Homo sapiens: one gene and its partner. The protein of the gene in region 1 interacts with the protein of each later gene in a biochemical or structural test. Each region holds a gene or a part of one and is shown in the gene's direction. Other genes may lie near its edges. The genes, in order: WIPF3 and ITSN1.

Region 1 (10,428 bases):
TCTTGTGCCCAGCATTAATAGTTATCACTGGGACTCCTGCCTCCCTTCAATTTTTTTTAACTTTATCATTACGAAAGAGGTCAGAGGAGAGGTTGTTTTTGGGCCTTGCAAGGAGATAAACTCCAGGTCAATACCTGGACAGGACATGAGGGAGGCTTCTGGGATGCTAGAAATGCTTCTCACCTTGACCTAAGAATTACTGAAGTTATACCCTTGAGACTTGTGCACTTAACGTAAATTCTACCTCAGTGAAAAAGTAAATAAAAATGTGATGCTAAAGTCCACTCATTGTGGTAACACACAGATTGCTGCAGTTTTCCAGCTAATGCATTTCAAAGATACATTTAAAAACCACAAAAACCAAATCAGAAAAGAAGTGGCGAGGAGGGGCAAAAGAAAGTTAAGAAGTAACTGGAAATGAAACATACACTGCAGATGCCTTTATGTGCATCACCTCCTGTGATTCGCAGCAATTCTTTAACAGAGATATTGTTATTGTGCCTTTTTTACAGATGAGAAAATAAAAGGTCACAGAGGTTAAATTACTTACTCAGGGTAACAGCCTGGGCACACAGACTTCAAATTCTAGACAGGCAACCTTCAACAGGCAATTTGTGGCCACCTGAATCGGGGCAGAGCGGTCAGGGTGACAGACACTTGTAGGCTGGCTTCCTGCCATTGCCCCCTTTTTGTTCCTTTAGGAGTCTCTGTTTTCACGTAATTGTGAGTGTGACATTGTGTCACAGATTGCAGTTACCCAGCAGCAGAAGGAATGGAGGAAGTGTGTGTGTGTGTGTGTGTGTGTGTGTGTGTGTCTAAGAACATACAGTTATAAGAACAGGGGAAAGCCAGCTGGTCTAGCCTGGCAACGCTCTTTTTAGGAGACTTATTGTTCAGAAACCATATAGTACAGGTTGCGAGTTTGCAGTCACTCCAACACATACACAAAGAATAAAGAATATAACCTAGGAAAGATCCGAGAAAACAAAATGTGATTAACAGTAGAGGGAAACATAGAATTTTCACCAGGATGGCAGTCAACTTTTTTACATTCTAGAATTTATAAATATGTTTATTAATGTTGAAGTTTTTAAAAAAGAAACCTACACAAATAACTCAGCAAAAGGAAGGAAATGTGTTTTCTAGCAAATGTGTTATAAATATTTAATATATATGAACTTTGGTGCAGAAATATTTGAAACATTAGGGTACAGTAGCCTTAAATCTACGGAGAAATCCTGAGAACTTTGTCCTGATGTGTGGTCTTCTAGTGATTTTATTTTTCTGCCTAATATTCCGAACTTAAAGAGGTAGAAACGTCTTTGTTTTACCACCAGTTTCAAGTTGCAGAGTTGAATGTTTGTCTTAGGAAGTTTTGGTGTAAAGAACGTGGGTTAAGGGGAGCAATTTAGAAATAGCTCTGGGTGAGTCCCCTCAGCCCAGTGCCATCGAGCATGGTTCTGCATCACAAAGTTATCTTTAGGCAAGTTTGCCTTGTCACAGTGGTGCTTCTGCCATCTGGCTGCTGGAATATTTAGAAAAGAATCGTAATGTTTGACTGACTTTGCCGACAGCATGACAAAACAAACTTCGAGGGGAACTATTAAATATGAGTTAGGGTTGGTGAGAAAGTGATTAATTGCTTTTTATTTAGCCACTGTACAAAACCGAAGAGGCATGCCTTTCCCCAGCCGATGCTGGGCAGGGGCAGCACACGTGTTTTCTCACTGGCTTCAGCCAGTAGGGCACTTGAAACTCCCCTTTTGCAATTCTAGCTGCGTCTTTCCTTAGACCTGTTCAAGAGGGAACCCGACCATTATGCAGCAGGGGAATTGTGTAGTGAACTGCGGTGTTCAAGTGCCAAGGAGGTAAACTAAAGCAGAGTAAACGTGACAAAAATGCCCAGCGGGCATTATGTGGGCCAGGCACTGTGGAGGAAGATTTTCAAGTGCATCTTGAAGGAATGTTCATCCTATGTGGGTGGTGTTTTCCAGCTAACACCGCATCTAGGATGGTGGCATCCAGGAGAGAGTGCCAGGCCTGCACATGGACTGTGAGAGTCAGCTCTTGGTTAGCTAGGAGGAGGCAGTAGCCAGTCTCAGTGCTTGAGTTTCTGAGGACGTGTGTCTGTGTGAGTGCACATGTGTGTCTGAGCAAGGTGCCCAGGTTGCCATCCACTGTTCCTTAAGAGCTAATGACTAGCTAGCCCTGCCCGGGGCTAGGCTAAGAGCTTTATATGTAGGACATCACTACAGCAGCCCTATAGGGAGCTGATTCTTCATACTCCTTTATCAAAGGGGAGACAGAAGCCGAAGGCTGACTTACTCTCAGAATGATCATGTTGCACCCTGCTGTGGTCTTTTATCAACCCACTCATAACCCCAAGGTGTCCCCAACCTACCTGACTCTCTCTTATTGCACCTGAGCTCCTGGAAGGCAGGAACTGTGTTCATCTCCATTCCCAGCATAGCACCTGCCCCATGCCTGGCAAGTGAGGGGTACTCCCTAAAGGTTGTTGAATGAATTAAAGGACTGTGTAAGTGGAGGAATCAGTAATTGTGTGAGTGAATGAATGAATGAATGAATGAATGAATGAATATCTGGAAGTATGTTCCAAGATCAAAAGACAATTATTTGTTGTGTTTTATCTGTTGTTTTAACTTTCACTGTCTCATTCCCTTTTGTTAATATGGCTCCATCAGGCATAACTGTATGGATGAGATTTCCAATAGTTATCTCCTTTAGGGCTCAGCCTATAAAATCAAAAAGCCTCTGCTTCTTTAAGAAATTATTTATTCTTTTGTATAACTTATGTAAGTCAGAATCCCTGGACTATTTTGCATGAATCTTACATGCATCATTTATTTGCTGTATGATCTTGGACAAATTACTTAACCTCTCTGTGTTTTGGTTTTCTCATCTAGAAAATGAGGATAATAATAGTATTTATCTCATGTTTAAGGCTAATAAGATAGATTTATTCTGTTTTTTTGTTTTTTGATAGGGTCTTGCTCTGTTGCCCAAGCTGGAGTGCAGTGGTTTGATCACAGCTCACTACTGCCTCCAACTCCCACACTCAAGTGATCCTCCCACCTCAGCCTCCTGAGGAATTGGAACTACAGGCACGTGCCACCATGCCCGGCTAATTTTTTTTTATTTTTTGTAGAGACAGGATCTGACTATACTGCCCAGGCTGGTCTCAAACTCCTGGATTTAAGCGATCCTCCTGCCTCAGCCTCCCAAAGTGCTGGGATTACAGACATGATCTGCCTTGCCCAGCCATAAGATAGATTTGGTACTTAGGACAGTGCCTCATTCATAGCAATGTTCAGTCAATTAGCCATTATGATGATGATGATGATGATGATGATGATGATGATGATCTGATGCTTTTAAAAATTGTTTGCCTTAAATGTTCCGTGTTCCATAAAGTGTTCAAGGAGTTTACAAAAATAGCAAACAACATAAAATTAATAGATAATGAAACTGAGGTAAAGGGAACACACGGGTTAGAAAGTGAGATAAAATCAGAGGTAATTTACAGAACCAGAATAGATCATAAGTTGTGGATAGTTTCCAGAGGTGGGAGTAAAAATTTGCCAGAGCTTCCCAGCAGCCAAAACAAAAAAGAAAACATAAATAGTTACCTGATCCACAGTGACCATGAGATAAAAACAGATTGGTTACACAGCTTTTCCTGGTCCTGAAACCTGGGATAACTTTCTCCTGGCAGGTGTTCAATGCACTCACTGTTGCCATAGAGACCTAAGTCTTCAACATCATCCCTGCCATAAAGACAATGGAAGTGCTGTGGTAGAAGGCAAAAGTAAGTGTTTCCTAGAACTTTATTGACTGCAGTTCCGGAGACATAATCCCACACAGCTCAGTAAAAGCTCTTTGCAGGGCCAAAATGCTGTGGTTCAGGGACATTCTGTATTCTTAGCTATGCTTACTGAGTGCCTGGAAGAGCCAGAGCCTTCCTTCCAAAGATTGTAATTCTTATGAGAGTCAGGTAGTGAACAGTCTCATCTTTAAGAACTTTGGCTCTGGCTGAAGCCATTTAAATGAGCCAAATCAGTTTACCTCATCCAGGAAAAGTCCAAAGGGTGTCATTGTGCACATGTGCTCATTAACAGATGATTATGTATTTATGAATTTTCTTAATACCAGCAGTCCATAATTTCCCTTTAGCTGAAAATTTTTATTACCTACTTGGAAAAAGAAAAATCCAGTGCTAGAAAGCATAAATATTTTATTTTTTAAACATTTTTTATTATTGAAATAATAGTGCTCATGTCTTTTAAGCTCCCCACTCCCGTATATATATCCAGATGTGAATTGTAGCAGCTGCCAAAGTAAACAAAACCAAACCAGTGCACACACCCAAATCTGGCTTACATGGATTTGTTTATTTGTCTTGTGGAATTAGACTCCTAAGAAAGGCAGTCTGGGGCCTGTGCAGGAGCTATCTGAGACCAGTATCCATCCATCTTCCTGCTTCACCACACTTAGCCTATAGGACTTCATCCTAAATCTGGTTGCCTCATGATGACGATATGGCTGCAGTATCTCTAGGCTTCCATCTGCAGTCTAGGCAAGAAGACAAGGAAGGTGCAAATAGATAAAGGAATTAATGTCCTTCTATTAGTGAGGTTTTACCTTTTTATTCAGGAAGTGATGCACTCCCTAGGACTTCCACCTGCATCTCATTGGCCAGAACAGTGTCACAGGGTTGTTCTAAATATATTAGAGTCTGATAAATCAAATATTTTTAGCTGGGTAAATTGCAACCCCATCACTCAAATTAGGGCTTCTGCTGTGAGGAAGAAGAGGGAATGGTTATTGAGTAGGCAGCTAGCAGTATCAGCCACCTGACTGACTTCCATTATTAGCCATGTGTCTGACTTAATTAGAAATTACAGAAGGTGACTCAGTAATTTTAAATGTTGTACTCTTCTAGATCTTCATGGAATTAGTGTTAGAGAATGAAATGCACCCAACTGCCTGTGTAAAGATTCCTAAATCGCTATTGTCAGCCTTGCTTCTTCTCTAAATTTCAGATCTGAATTTCCATTTGCCAAAAGCACCTCAAACTCAAAATGTTTCGAATTAAAATCTATTCTCTCTGCTCATTGACCACCGCTTCCCACTCTCTCCTCCGTCTCGTTTAACACTACATTGTCTTGACCACCAAGGACCCAAGGGGTCACCCCAGGCTCTTTCTTCTTCCCCATCCCAGACATCCAATCTGATTTCCTCCTTGGCTCTATCCCATTGCCGTTACTCTGATTTAAATAAATACCCATCCTTACTCATGTGGGTCCCCAAATTGATATACCTGTTTGCTCCTTCCTCTCCCTACAATTCAGTTTCCACACATAGCCCCACGGTGCTGTTTTTAGAACACAGATGTCTAACAACATCTTTCCTCTCTTTAAAAACCTACAAAATAAGGTCCAAAAGCCCAGCATTTGACAGCCTGGCATTGTGAGCTTCCTGCCACAACCCCCAAGCCACAGCACCCATGCACTCACACAGGGCAGGACTCTGCTCATACCCGCCCCTGCTTCAGTCATGGAAGACCTGGCTCAGACATTTCTTTCTGACACTTTACTTGTCCGTAACTTATGGCACAATTAAGTAAATTTTCATGTATGCTTCCAAACTATTTTATATTTCTATTCATATTTTTTGCCCTGGATTCTTTTTTCCTGATATTAATAATGCTACAGCAGTTTTTTTCTTAAAAATCAGTTTTATTGAGCTATAATTCACATACCATAAGATTCAGCTTTTTAAAATACACAATTTCAGTGGTTTTTAGAATTTTCACAGTTGTGCAACCATCGCCATTATTTAATTCCAGACATTTTCATCACCCCAAGAAGAAACCCGTTAATAGTCGCTTCTCATCTCCCTCCCCTCAATCCTTGACAACCACTAATCTATTTTTTATTTCTATAGATATTTGCTATAAACGGAATCTTACAATATGTGGCCTTTTTGGTAAGAGAATTTTTTTTTTTTTTGAGACAGGGTTTCGCTCTGTCACCCAGACTGGAGTCCAGTGGTGCTATCCCAGCTCACTGCAGCCTCGACCACCCAGGCACAGGTGATCCTCCTGCCTTAGCCTCCCAGGTAGCTGGGACTACAGGCGCGTGCCATGACACCCAGCTAATTTTTGTATTTTTAGTAGAGATGGGGTTTTGCCATGTTGGCCAGGCTGGTCTCGAACTCCTAGGCAAGCGATCTGTCTGCCTCCACCTCCCAAAATAAATGTAATAACCTGCTTACGGTTATTATGATTACTCATATATTGGAACTTATTTTGTGTTTTCTTGTATACCCTGTGCTTTATTATTACTTCTTTTTTTCCCTTCCTTTTCTGCCTTCTACAAAAGTGCCTGGCACATAGTAACCTTCAGTAAGTGTTACAAGCTATCATTTGTGGGCAGGAACCATGTAGCTATGGATTTATTTATCCATCAAACATTTATTGATTACCTGCTACTCGTGTTTATAGTTTTGTTGCATGGCTAGCTTAGTGTCTAACAGATAGAAGAAGCTCAGTACATATTTGCTGCATTGCATGGACTGTGCAGAGACTGATGTGCTTGTCGAAGGCTGGGGGAGTTGTGGAAAGCACACAGGCTTGGGATCAAATTCACTTGGGTTGGATCTGATTTTGTCACATCCTAGCTATTTGATCTTGGGTGATTACCTTATGTCTTTGAGCCTTCATTTCCTCATCTGTGAAATGGGGATGATAACATCTGTTGTGAAGAGTTGTTTTGGGGGATGAGAGATAGTTATGTAAGTGACAATCAGAATTGCTAGTGTAGGGAATATGCTCAGTACATGTGAACTATTGTTTTTCTCAGTGAACTGTTTAACTGAGCACCCTCCCAACCATGTACATCAGTATTGAAACACCAACCATGACTGCCCAGGGAATAAAGGTGTAGTCAAAAATGAAACTGGCCCCTTTCCTATGTGGCTGATGTAAGTTATTACCGCCCTATTAGAGGAGGGGACATTTTCCCCTCACATGGTAGAACCAAGGAAAACAACCAAAAGTGTACTTTCTTCTTCCTTTTAACAATAGGAGTCGATTTTAAGTCTCCGATGTCCCTTAAAGCTTCCGTTTATTCTAACACTCGTTTAAACGTTTCAATGAAACATTTTTGTTTCAGTCATGCTTCTCTCCAGGGATTCAGAGAAAAAATAAAGTAGCGTCAGAAATAGGTAAGACAACTACCTAGAAAAAGAGAAGCTTAGCAAGCTTGAAGACAGGCTATTTGGAAATACACAGTCAGAGGAGACAAAAGGAAAAAAAAACAGTAAGACAAGACAAGCAAGCAACCATTTTTCCTGAGTTTCAAATTCCCTTTCCCCACATTTTAAAAGCTTTTGCTCGACTCTTTGTTGCTGTTGTTCTGGTTTTCACCCAAATGTGTATGTCTTGAGGTTAGAAATTTGCCTGCGGACATAGAAGGAAGGCTAAAGAGTAGCCAGGGTTTATGCCTTTTGTTGTCCTTCCTGGCATGCATGGATGCTCAGTGAGTTTTAAGGGATGGTGTTTGATCTGCACTCATTTTGACAGTATCCGTATGAATTACATGTATCTAAAAAAGACGAGCCAAGATACCTGTCCATAGGATCTAGGGAGGCAGTATTTTGTGGCTAGGGGAACAGAGCCCCCACGTGTTATTTCAGACATGTGCACCTTCTCACCAGCATGCTTGTGTTCTCACAGTTAATAAATGACAGGGTCTGCTACAGCTGGAACCAACTTAAAATTATCCATGCCTAATAGAGCATCATGTCTTAAAACCATTCCTTGTTGTGTGTTAACCGTGTGATAACAGAAGAATTAAACTGTAGGGGTTATGACTGGTTTGGGGAGAATTATTTTATTCTGCTCTTGCCTATTTTCCTAGTGCACCTGGTCAGTCGCCTCTAACTTGTGGATGGCTGTGGTGGTGATTTCAGCTGTCCCAGGAAGTCTGTGTGCAAGGCCAGCACAGCAAATCCCACCCTTAGTGCTGAGTCCTACTCTCGATGGCTCCAGCAGCTGCTCCTTTAGACCAAATCGTCAAGACCATTTTAATCTTTTTCTTTATTTGTATTTGCCTTTGAGGTGTAAAGAGATCTCCTAATTCGGATAGTTCAAAATACTTTTAAAAATACTTCTTCACAGTTGTCCCAAATAAAGTGTTTCTCTGAGGTGGTAATCCTGAACTTTTGCTTATTAATTTTTTGAATAAGGAATAATGCACATGACACTTCAAAAAGTATAAAAAGGATGTTCACTGTAAAATATTTCCTGTACTCTATCCTCAGACCACCTAGTTATGCATTCTTCCAGAGAAAAGGCATACTCGTTCTTTTATTATTATTATTATTATCATCATCATCATCATCATCATTTTTTTAGAGACAGAGTCTCTCTCTGTTGCCCAGCTGGAGTGCAGTGGCCTGCCTGATTATGGCTCACTGCAGACTCCATCTCCTGAGCTCAAGCCTCAGCCTCCTGAGTAGCTGGGACTACAAGTACACCAGCTAATTTTTATTTTTATTTTATTTTATTTTATTTTTTAGTAGAGATAGGGACCTGCTTTGTTGCCCAGGCTGGTCTTGAATGTTAGGCCTCAAGTAATCCTGCCCCTGCTTTCCAAAGTGCTGGGATTACAGGCATGAGCTGCCCTGCCCAGCTGCAAACTCATTCTATATACATTTTCTGCTGCCTGCTTTTTTCACATAACACAATGTGGAGATCATTCCAGGTTCATACATACAGGGCTGCCATATTCTTTGTGACAGCTACCTAGTGTGTCAGTATAATGTATGAACCATAATTTAATAATTAGTTTTCAGTTGACAGGTATATACACTATTTCCAGCCTTTTCCTATTAAAACAAATGCTGCAAGTTTTGTCACTGTACAAATTATTTCTCACACGTGAGAAAGATCAGTAAGATAAATTCCTAGAATTGAAATGTGAATTTTTAAATGTTGCTACATTTTCCCATTACCCTTCACAGAAGTTGTACAAATTTATATTCCTACCAATAATTGTCTGATTCCCTGCACTCTCTCCAACACATACATATCAAACTTTTTATCTTTGCCAATTTGATAGGTGAAAATGGTATCTGATTGTGGTTTTGACTTGCATTTTCTCATTAGGAATAACATTGAGGGTCTTTGAATGTGTTTAATTGCCATATATGTTTCCTTATGTGTGAACTGTTTAGGCCTATTTGTGTATTTTCTATCGGGTTATTGATTTTTATTGTAGGAACACCTTATAGAGAAGATAAAACAGCCATTTTACTATAATTTTTATTTTACTGTAATTTCCCCCAGTTTATAATATGACTTATTTTAATGTAATTTCCCTGCAATTTGTAGTATGACTGGGCTTTATTTAATGTGGTTTTATGTATATAGATATGTATTTATTGCTTTGCAGAAACCTTTTCTTCTATACATTTTAGAAAGGTCTTTCTGACTTGTAGATTTTAAAAATTCTCTCATATTTTTAGTATGATTATAATTTCCTTTTTTAGAAATTAAAAATTTGATTCCTTGCAATTTAATGTAAGGCATGAGATCCTTACATTGTTAGCTAACTTAATTTTTTTCCAGATTACTACCCAATTTACTCAATACTTTTTGTTGAATAACTTATCTTTTCCCCACTGATATCCAATGTCTTTCTTTTTTTAAAATAATAACCAAAATTTCCAAAAATACCTAGGTCAATTTCCAGGCTCTCAGGTCTATTACCATTACTGATTCTCCATATAGCAATATCAAATGGTTTTAATGAATATGGCTTTATTATTTGTTTATTATCCAATGATTTTATTTTTCCATGTAAACTTTGAAATCACCTTGAGTAGTTATAAAAAGCAAACAAGTTAGTATTTTCATTATGATCACCTTAAATTTATACATTAATATAGAGAAAAATCAACTTTTGTATGATATTTAGTCTTCCTACCCAAGACTATAGTGTGTTTTTCCACGTCTTCACTGTTTCTCAGTAATGTTTTGAAGTTTTATTTCATGTCTTTGCATATTTTGTTAAGTTTATGCTTAGGTATACTTTTTTAAAGTTGCTATTGTGAACACAATTATTTCTTCACAGTACTTTCTGGCAGTTATTGTTTATATACAGGGATACTTTTTGGAGTTTATTGGTTTGGAAGAGCTACCTTTTTAAATTATCTTATTAATTAAAATAATTTTCCGGCCAGGCACAGTGGCTCAAGCCTGTAATCCCAGCACTTTGGGAGGCCGAGGTGGGGTGGATCACCTGAGGTCAGGAGTTCAAGACCAGCCTGGTCAACATGGTGAAACCCCCATCTCTACTAAATATACAAAAATTAACTGGGGTGGTGGCACATGCCTGTAGTACC
Region 2 (10,428 bases), on another chromosome or scaffold:
CTGGTGTGCTTGAAACGTTATTTTGATGGGAGTTTCCTTGTAAGTAAAAACATTGAAAAATACATACATATGAAAGAAAAATCCTTAGTGCAGATGGGTTTGTAAAGAATCCAGGGACTTTTAAGTCATATAAATTAAGAAGTGAGGGACACTAATTTGATGATGGTGTTAAAATTATTTCAGACACCTTTAAGTAGTCCAGTGGAGATCATTTCTGATAGTATGATCTTTTTTTAAAAAAATGGTATTTCTTTATCTAGGAATGCTTCTGTTGAAATTGCTACGGCGCATGGTACCGTCACAAAACTCTTTTATTATTCTGCCTGAGTAAGAGAGGAAATGAACAAATTTTTAATGTACTTTGGAACCCTGCGGATTGCACAGATACTAAGCATTGTGAAATAGGGCATAAAATGAGTGGTAGCAAGTTAGTTCTGTGAAATGTTTGTCGCTGTTAGCATTTTTTTTTTTTTTTGGCAGTCGACTAGCAATTTTCTTTTCCCTAAAGCTTATCTTCAATATTGGTAGTAGAACCTCTGCTCAAGTTTATCTTTTCCCCAAGTGCCTAGACTGGGACAAACTATCAAGCCTCCTGTAAGAGATTAAGGAGGAGCTGCTGGTAAATTCCTTTCCTTTTTTTTTTTCTTGAGGCAGGGTCTGGCTATGTCACAGGCTGGAGTGCAGTGGCGCAATCTTGGCATACTGCAGCCTCGACCTCCTGGGCTCCAGTGATCTTCCCACCCCAGCTTCCAGAGTATCTGGGATCACAGATGCACGCCACCATGCCCAGCTAATTTTAAAATTTTTTCTAGAGACAGGGTCTCTCTGTGTTGCTCAGGCTGGTCTAAAACGCCTACCTTAAACGATTCTCCCACCTAGGCAGCCTCCCAAAGAGCTAGGATTAGAGGAATGAGCCACCATGCTTCGTCCAAATTCCTCTACTCTAAATTATCTTTTTAATTTGCTAACATTTGTGAGTTGTAGAGAATTGATGACACGAGAGTTGGGATTATATTATGCACCTCAAATTCTTCTGCCATAGAGCTGTTCCCTTCTGAATGATCACTTCCTCCTGAATGGCTCCACTTAACTGGTTGGGTTTCTTAAAGTGTGGGCCTCAGATCACTTACATCAGCATTAATGGAGGCACTTGTTAAAAATATAGGTTTTGGGCATGGTGGATCAAACTTGTAATCCCAACACTTTGGGAGGCTGAAGTAGGAATAGCTTGGGCCCAGGAATTTGAGACCAGCTTGGGCAACACAGGGAAACCTGGTCTCTAAAAAAAAATTTTTTTTAATATTCTGGGCTTAGTGACTCGTGCCTATATTCCCAGCTTTTCTAGAGGCTGAGGTGGGAGGATCTGGTTCGCTTGAGCCCAGGAGATGGAGGCTGCAGTGAGCCATGATTGCCCTACTGCATTCTAGCCTGGGCGACAGAGAGAGCGAGCCTGTGTCCAAAAAGTAAGTAAGTAAATAAATACATAAAAATAAATACGGGTTTCTGTCACCTCGCTTCAGAATCAGACAGCTAGAGGTGGGGCCCTGGAATTGGTGTTGTTAATGCATTCTCCAGGAATTTCTCCTGCATAGGGAAGTTGGAAACCACTGGCTTCCTTCTCTCTGAGCATCTCCTGAGACTAGCTCCTGAAGTGGATAGAAAGTTTTTCAAGTAGCAGATTAAGTTTTATCCCTTAGGCTGCTAATAAAAAACAATTGACTGTGATTGCGTAATTTTACCTGTCGTACACCTTTCAGAAGGCAGAGGCTTTGGTTCACCCCTCTACCTCCAGGGCCTAAAACAGTGCCTGGAGGAACTCAATTAAACATTTGTTGAGTGAATACGTGAATTACATTGCAGCGAGGCCAATCTTTTAAAAGTTACTTGTCAAATTAATCTATCAGTTAGTGGCATATTAAAGCCCAGCATATTACAAAAAAATTTTTTTTAGTAGTCACTGATTTTATAAATTAGGAGCCACAAGCACTATACCCCAGTGACTTCTGTAAGTTTGGTTAGTTTAGAAAGGAGAGAGCCTTTCCCAGGCGTAGTGTGCTCAAGGTGATTAGCCAGAAAGAAGATTCAGAACAAAGCATTTGCTTAGAGAGTCAAAATGTAAATTTAAGTCACAGTGTAGTGGTAAATCATATATCAAACTTATATTTGGTATATTGTCTTATATCAAAATATCATTTTATAAACCATAAGTCCAACATACTGCTATAAAAATTGGTTTCTAGCAAATAGAGAAAATTGTTATGTTTTCCAATTTCACTTTTCATACTAATAAAATTTGACCTTTACACCTTCTTTTCAAGAGTTCACCACAGGGCACCATAGATATTATGTAGTTAAGAGCTCAAACTTTGGAGAATATTGTGTTTGACCACACATAGTCAGGGAGTTTGATCTAACCTCTCAATGCCTCATTTCTCAGCTGAACATGGAAATAGTAATAATAAAGTTCACATACTTCTAAGTGCTTACCTAAGTTTTTGAGACACATCCACTTAATAAATGGTAGTTACAGTGATGATAAAGAATTGGGGTGTATAAAAATACCTAAAACTCAAAAGCTAACCCATTTAATTATTGTACTACTGGACTTTTATGATAGTAAGTAGAAATCTGTTGCTTAAAAAAGAAGTTTCTTTGGTGGTGTGCGTCTATAGTCCCAGCTACTTCGGAGGCTGAGGTGGGAGAATCACTTGAACCCAGGAGATCAAGGCTGCAGTGAGCTATGATTGTGCCACTGCACTCTAGCCTGGGTGACAGAGCAAGGCCCTGTCTCAAAAAAAAAAGAAAAAAAAAAGTTTATTGCTAACTCCTTGGTACTATGTATAATTTTTTTAATTGAATGACTAGACTAAACATTGAAAGTATTTAATAAGCTATCAAATATGTATTAATATAAGTTTTGAAAATAAATACTAAATCTCCTGATCTCTTTTAGGTTAAAATATAGTTTATGATGAGCAACTAATATTCTTTGTATTTAAAAAGATAATTGTTTTATGGTAGAAAAATTGAAATACAGAAAAGTATAAAGTAGAAAACTATGAAATACCCGTAAGTCTACTACCTGCATACATATTTCTTCAAATCCTTTTGTGTGTGTGCATATGGCTATTCATATACAATTTCTGGTAACAAAAATGGGATCTTGCTATACATATGGTTGTAACCTGCTTTTTTTTTGCTTAACATCTTGTCATGAGTGTCTTTTCCTATATATATATTGCATTATAACAATTTTAGTAACCAAATAATATTCCGTTTTATGGATCTATGGTAGTTTTTTTTTTAATTTTTATTTTTTCAGACGGAGTCTCAGTCTGTTACCCAGGCTGGTGTATAGTGGCTCAATCTTGGCTCACTGCAACCTACGCTTCCCAGGTTCAAATGAATCTCTTGCCTTAGCCTCCTGATTAACTGGGATTACACATGCCTGCCACCATGCCTGGCTAATGTTTGTATTTTTAGTGGAGATGGGGTTTCGTCATGTTGGCCAGGCTGGTCTCATGCTCCTAACCTCAGGTGATCCACCTGCCTCAGCCTCCCAAAGTGCTGGGATCACAGGCGTGAGCCACCACACCCAGTCATGGATCTCTGGTGGTTTAGCCAATTTATTTTTATTAGACATTAGTTTGTTTATTTTTCCTCCACGGTTACTTATAACCCTGCAGTGACTGTCCTTCTACATATGTCTCTGAATGTACTTGTGAGATTATTTTCATTAGGATAAATTTCTACAAATGGAATTTGCAGGATCAAAGCCTATGCTAAATTTTAGGATTTTTTAAATCCGTATTTCCAATTTGTCATTTAGAAAGATTGTATCATTTTATACTCTTACCATGGTATATCAGACTTCCAGTCTCCCAGCCCCTTGTACCTTCCCCCATTTTATGGAATGACTTAACCAGTGACAAACCTAGTGAATTTTTGCTTTTAGGAAGAAGAATGGACTGTTAGTATAATGTGTTTAGTAGTGTGATATGGAAACTCAGAAATCTTGTGCATGGGTAATAGTGATAGCTAATGTCGATTAAGTTCTTTTGCAGCATCTTATATACATTAACTCACTTCACAAAAAACTCTCATCTTACAGATGCCTTGGAAACTAGGGTACCAGCAATTAGAGAGCCAGCAAGTGTCTGAGCAGATTTTTACTGTAGAGTCCAAAACTCTTAGCCTGTTTCCTAGACATGTTTTATAGGCATTTGGGTACTTTTTATGTTCTCGATTGCTGTTGTGGAGTAACTAAGAGGTTCTCTGACATGTACTAATATATAAACTGGGTGGGGCACAAATTTGAATCCCTTTCACTGAAGAGTTGGTCACATAAGTTAGCTCAGAAATTAGCTTTGGGACCGGTGCTGTGGGTCACTCCTGTAATCCCAATACTTGAGAGGCCAAGGTGGGAGCATTACTTGAGCCCAGGAGTTCCAGACTGGCCAGGGCAACATAGCAAGACCCTACAAAAAATTTTTTAAAAAGTAGCCCAGTGAGGTGATGCCCACCTGTAGTCCTAGCTACTAGGGAGGCTGAGGTGGGAGGACTGTTTGTACCCAGAAGTTGGAGGCTGCAGATGCCACAGCACTCCAGACTGGGCAACATAGTGAGATCTTGTCAAAAAAGAAAGGGGAGGGCAGGGCAAGAGAGAGAGAAAAGAAAGGAGAGAAAGAGAAAGAGAAGGAAGGAGAAAGAAAGAGGAGAGAGAGAAAAATTAGCCTCATCAACTGTCCAGCATTCATCCTTAAAGTAGTCTTGTTATCCTTTACTCTGTAGTGGTTTTCCTAAAGTACCCCTGCATGAAAAACAGGATTAGAGTGCTAGAGAAGACTAGTGAAATTTGAAAAGGCAGTTCACTTGTGATGTGGACTTGTCTTAGAAACGCAAGACTGTACAGAAGTGTGATGAGGGAGACAGCTGGGTGTGTGTGTCCAGGTAGTTCCATGTTGGCGAGTTTGGAGATAGAAAGTGGCCTAAGGAAGTTTACTTCCTGAATGTGAATGTTGGCCACTTTGGAGATAGAAAGTGGCCTAAGGAAGTTTGCTTCCTGAATGTGAAGGCCTCAGTGTAGAGAGATATCATCCACTGGGAGATCACTGAAAAGTAAACCAAAACATTTTTATTAATACATGGGATGGTAGAATGTCACTCCAGTTTTGTTCCTAAAGTTCGTAGCTCTCTAAGAAAGTGAATTTTAAGCAAGTTAATCTATTTTAATGCATCACTGCTCTTTCGGTGTTTTTCTAGTAGAATTAATGATAGGTAGCTTGCTTTATTAGCTTACTGCCCAGAGAGAACATTGGTGAAATTGTTTTGGCTTCAGCTCTCTGGACTGAGTTTGGCTGCCTAGCTCAGTTTTCAGTTGGTCACCAAAACCTGTCATTGTTTTTGTGTGGTATGGGGTCTGCTGGAGTCATGTGGTAGTGCGTTTGGCCCTTCATTGAGTGGTGGAGCCAGGAGTTGAGCTGAGGGCTGTGGCAGAATTTTGAATTCAAGTGAATTCGAATGTGAAAATAACAATGTCTGGCCGGGCGTGGTGGCTCACACCTGTAATCCCAGCACTTTGAGAGGCCGAGGTGTGCGGATCATGAGGTCAGGAGTTTGAGACCAGCCTGGCCAACATGGTGAAACCCCATCTCTACTAAAAAATACAAAAATTAGGCGGGCGTGGTGGCGCACAAGTGTAATCCCAGCTACTTGGGAGGCTGAAGCAGGAGAATTGCTTCAATTCCCTGCTTGAACCCAGGAGGTGGAGATTTCAGTGAGCTGACATCGCACCATTACACTCCAGCCTTGGCGACAGAGCGAGACTCTGTCTCAGAAAAAAAAAAAAAAAAGAAAGAAAGAAAATAACAAGGTCATAGCAACACAGCAAGTGGTCAGAATTTTACCCTTGGTGGTTAAAATTAAACATCCTCTTTTTAATACAGGAGGACAATGCTCTTGCTCCTCTGTTGCACTGGTGAGCATTTGATGTGTTCCTCCTTGCATTATGTCTGCAAATCGTTCTGGTGTCTGGTGGCATGCATTTGCAAGACATGGATACAGTTCATGGACGTGGACGAGGTCAGCTGGCTTTTAGTGTCAGGCTTTAACCAACCTAGTTAAGAAGGACGCTGACTCTTACCATAAAAGCACTGCAACAAGATTGGAATTGGAGCTCCAACGAATTGGAGCCATTCGTTTTGTGTGTGTGTGTCTGTTTGCCTGTGTGTGTGTACAGGGTTAATTACTTCTCTGCAAGGCAAATTTCCTGACCGGTTTTATTGTTCTAACACAGACAAAATGTTGTGTAAACACATATATCATTCCAGTGTGTTATCTATAATAGGAGTGTTCATTGTGGATCCAGTGTTTCACAAAAATCAATTCATTTCCGCTCTGAACTTAAGATAGTAGATTTTAAAACCAAGTTATCTTTCAATTTCTGAAGTTATCTGAAACTCAGCTGCCCCAGTCTTGCAGAATTGGAGAATTGCATTTTGGCCACTGATGAATGAAAGCTATATAGCTAGTAATGAGAGAAACCTTGAAAAATTGACAAGAAAATGAGTGCCATTCTTGGTATATAGCAGATTTCAATGAATAGTAGTTCCCTTTGCCTTTATTTTTCCTCTTTCCTGCACTTAATATAAAGAGCTAATATTAAAGTCATTAAATGAGAATAGATCTGTATTATAGGTAGCACTGCTTATTTTTAGACCCCTTCAGATACAGTTATTACAATTGTTGTTTTAATATTCTTTAAATGATTACAGGAGGAAGAAACTTGGTAGCGGGGTTACCAGGATGTTAGCTCCATGAGGGCAGGGAGTGTATCGCTGTTGTCCAGGGGGCTAGCCCCAGGCCCTAGAGCAGCGCCTGCTGCCTGGCAGACACGCAAGGGTTATTTGTTGGTTTATTAAATCAAGGAGTGTTTGAGGTCCTTCAAGCCTGGAGGCCCGAGGGCTCTGAGCTGGTACAGAGCAAGTGCTGGGGGCAAGAGAGACAGGTGGGGAGTGAAGGAGAGAGGCCCACTTGGGACTTGACTCTGAATGTCTGGGAAGTAGGAAGTTAATGTAAGTTTTAAGCAGGGGAGTCCCATGATGTGCTTTTGTTTAAAAATCTCCTTCTGAGTATCATGTGGGAGTGGATTGGAGGATGGATAGAGAGGAACATTCCATTGACTCGGCTTCCAGCTGTCTATGGATGTTGACGTTTCTACCTAGCCTTCTGCTTTATCTTTGTGATGAGGATAATGTGGTGTACTTTGTGAGGTCTCAGGAATGGTTTGAGATGAATGGTAATTTGTGTAAACTTTCCGGAGTTTCTCTGAGGAAAAGAGAACCCCATAAAATTATTACTATTGATCAAATGAAATAGCAGTGTAAGACAAAGATCAAGAATTATTTAGCTTTATAAACAAATTAATTGAGGTTATGAATATAGGTTTCTATAGGAGAGATTTTGTTTCCTTTTTTTAGTGAAAGAAATCTTAAATGTATGGGAATGAATCCTTAAAATAGCAGGCTTTTGCATTGTCTATAGAAGCTGTTCTCTTTGAGGAAGATCTGTTTTGTAAAATGCTGCTGTTGTCTGTCCAATCTGGAGTTTTAATTAGTATCAAAGGGAGGGAAATCCTGCAGTAATCGTAACCTTACTTTAATTCTTAGTTCAATTAGTTTTAAACCACAGTCATTATCTGTTATCTTTAGTTGTTTTGATCTTGGTAGATGAAGTGATTAATATTACAGTTGTGATTTGGTAATTTAAAAAATAACATGTTTTTTCCTACTACAAAAGGAATACATGTTTATTGAAGAAAACTTTTGGAAACATATATAAGGAAAGAAGACTAAAAGCCTACCAAGATCTTACCATCCAGTGATAATGACTGTTAATACCCTGTGAAGGTCAACATGCTCAAATTACCCAGCAGGTGCCTGGTGTGAAGCTACTTAGCCCGGGAGAGTTGAAGGCCTGTTAGGGACCACGAGCACTGAAGGTGGCAGGACGGTCCAGGGCCAGTCAACCCAGACCTTTGTGGTTCTGGGAGGATGCGTCCTGGTGTTACTACACCTTATAGTTATTTAGGAGAATGTGGGTTTAATATGAAATCTTCTGATTTTTATGTGGGCCACACTTTTTATTGTTAACACACTGGGGTTCAAAGCATACCTGAGGGCTGGATTCAGTCTTCGTTGCCTTGCCAGTTTGTAGCCTCAGGTACGTACAGTTTTGTAGCCTGTGTTTTTCACTTAATGTGTTGTATTTGCAGCCTTTTTTGCTACATCGTCATATATGTAATCAGTCACTTATTGCTGGACCTATAGATTCTTTGTCTTTTTGCTTTTTAATAAAGATAGGTAAAATTCTTGGACCAAAAGTTGTTTGTAAAGCCTTTGCAGCATACCGCTCTCAGATGCATTCCCCCTATCATGTAAAAGGTACTTGTTTCCTGTTCTCTTACCAGGACTGGGTAAAACCATCTCCAAAAACATCTTAGCCAATTTTATTTGTTTTAACTTGCATTATTTTCTGTATTACCAATGAGTGTGAATGATTATTAAATGCCTATTGGCCTTACACAAATTTATTTGGTAACCAACTTGTCTTGCTGGAACTCTAAGTTCCAGCAATGTTTTGGTCTTGCATTCAATGCTTCTCAGTCTTTGTGATTCCAGATAATATTAGTACTGTGTTAGTAGCAATAATTAGTACTAATTGTAGGCATCGTTCCCCAAAACTGAGGGCATCAGTATCTTTGGCACAACTATAATCCACTTAAAGTACTGTGACTGGGAAGTTCTTTTTTTTTTTTTTTTTGACAGAGTCGTGTTTTGTTGCCCAGGCTGGAGCGCAGTGGCACAGTCTTGGCTCACTGCAACCTCTGCCTCCCGGGTTCAAGTGATTCTCCTGCCTCAGCCTCCTGAGTAGCTGGGACTGCAGGCATGTGCCACCATGCCCAGCTAATTTTTATATTTTCAGTGGAGACGGGGTTTCGCCATGTTGGCCAGGCTGATCTCGAACTCCTCACTTCAGATGATCTGCCCTCCTCAGCCTCCCAAAGTGCTGGGATTACAGGCGTGAGCCACCGCACCCAGCCGTGATTGGGAAGTTCTGAGTTTAGTTAGCTGTTCAGTGAATGTTTGAGTACACGCTGTATATGCCTGGCATTGCTCTAGGTGAGTAGCCTTGAACCAAGATAGAATCTCAGCCCTCTAAGACTTCTATGCTTTTTTAAAAATTCTCGAGTTTTTCATACAGACCATCATGTTTATAAAGGACCATTTTCATTCCTAGAATTTATAATTTATTTTTAACTTGTATTTCTTTCTTTTTTTTCTTTTTTGAGACAGAGTCTCGCTCTGTTGCCCAGGCTGGAGTGCAGTGGCACGATCTCAGCTCACTGCAAGCTCCACCTCCCGGGATCATGCCATTCTCCTGCCTCAGCCTCCCGAGTAGCTGGGACTACAGGCATCAGCCACCACGCCCAGCTAATTTTTTGTATTTTTAGTAGAGACGGGGTTTCACCGTGTTAGCCAAGATGGCCTCGATCTCCTGACCTCGTGATCCGCCCGTCTCGGCCTCCCACAGTTCTGGAATTACAGGCGTGAGCCACTGCGCCCGGCCAATGTCTTTCTTTTTTTTGAGATGATGTCTTGTTATATCGCCCAGGATGGTCTTGAACTGCTGGGTTCCAGCAGTTCTCCTGTCGCAGCCTCCCAAAGTGCTGAGATTATAGGCATGAGCCACCATAACTTGTATTTGTTTATTGGCATGGAACTTCTAAAACAGTGATGAATGCTTGTTACCCTTTAATTCCTTCCTTCTTTCCTTCCTCTTTCTCTTTCTTTCTCTCTTTGTCTCTTCTTTCTCTCTTTTGTCTCACTCTGTCACCCAGGCTGAGTGCAGTGGCATGACCATGATTCACTGTATCCCCAACCTTCCAGGTTCAAGGAATCCTCCCACCTCAGCCTCCCAAGTAGCTTTGACTACAGCCACAGCCACGCACCACCACACCTGGCTAATTTTTTTTTTTTTTTTTTTGGAGAGACGATCTCGCTGTGTTGCCTAGGCTGGTCATGAACTTCTGGACTCAAGTGGACCTCTCGCCTCAGCCTCCCCAAGTGCTGGGCTTACGGGCATGAACCGCTGCACCTGGCCTTTGATTTTTTAAATTCACTTTAATTATCTTAAGTTCTGTTATACTCTAGACTCTTAGCAAGAGTCTAGAATCAACGTTAGTTATTAGTTCCGTATTTTGATTATGAGACAAGGTACAAAGCTGAGACTGTGTGATGAGAACCTTTGGAATGTATATCTGACCCAACACAGATCCCCTAAGTGCCCTTCAACCTACACATCCAATTTCTTCCTACCTCCTTCTCTACACAAAAGACATAATACATTGAACTCGGGTTGGGCACCTGA

What was found.
Region 2: the proteins of WIPF3 (region 1) and ITSN1 form a complex in vitro, tested with the Homo sapiens proteins (one study listed by BioGRID).

Annotation. Positions count from the first base shown.
Region 1 is NC_000007.14:29,807,910-29,818,337, forward strand, and holds part of WIPF3 (WAS/WASL-interacting protein family member 3), read left to right. Parts: intron 1-10,428. UniProt on the Homo sapiens protein: May be a regulator of cytoskeletal organization. May have a role in spermatogenesis.
Region 2 is NC_000021.9:33,644,195-33,654,622, forward strand, and holds part of ITSN1 (intersectin-1), read left to right. Parts: intron 1-10,428. UniProt on the Homo sapiens protein: Adapter protein that provides a link between the endocytic membrane traffic and the actin assembly machinery. Acts as a guanine nucleotide exchange factor (GEF) for CDC42, and thereby stimulates actin nucleation mediated by WASL and the ARP2/3 complex.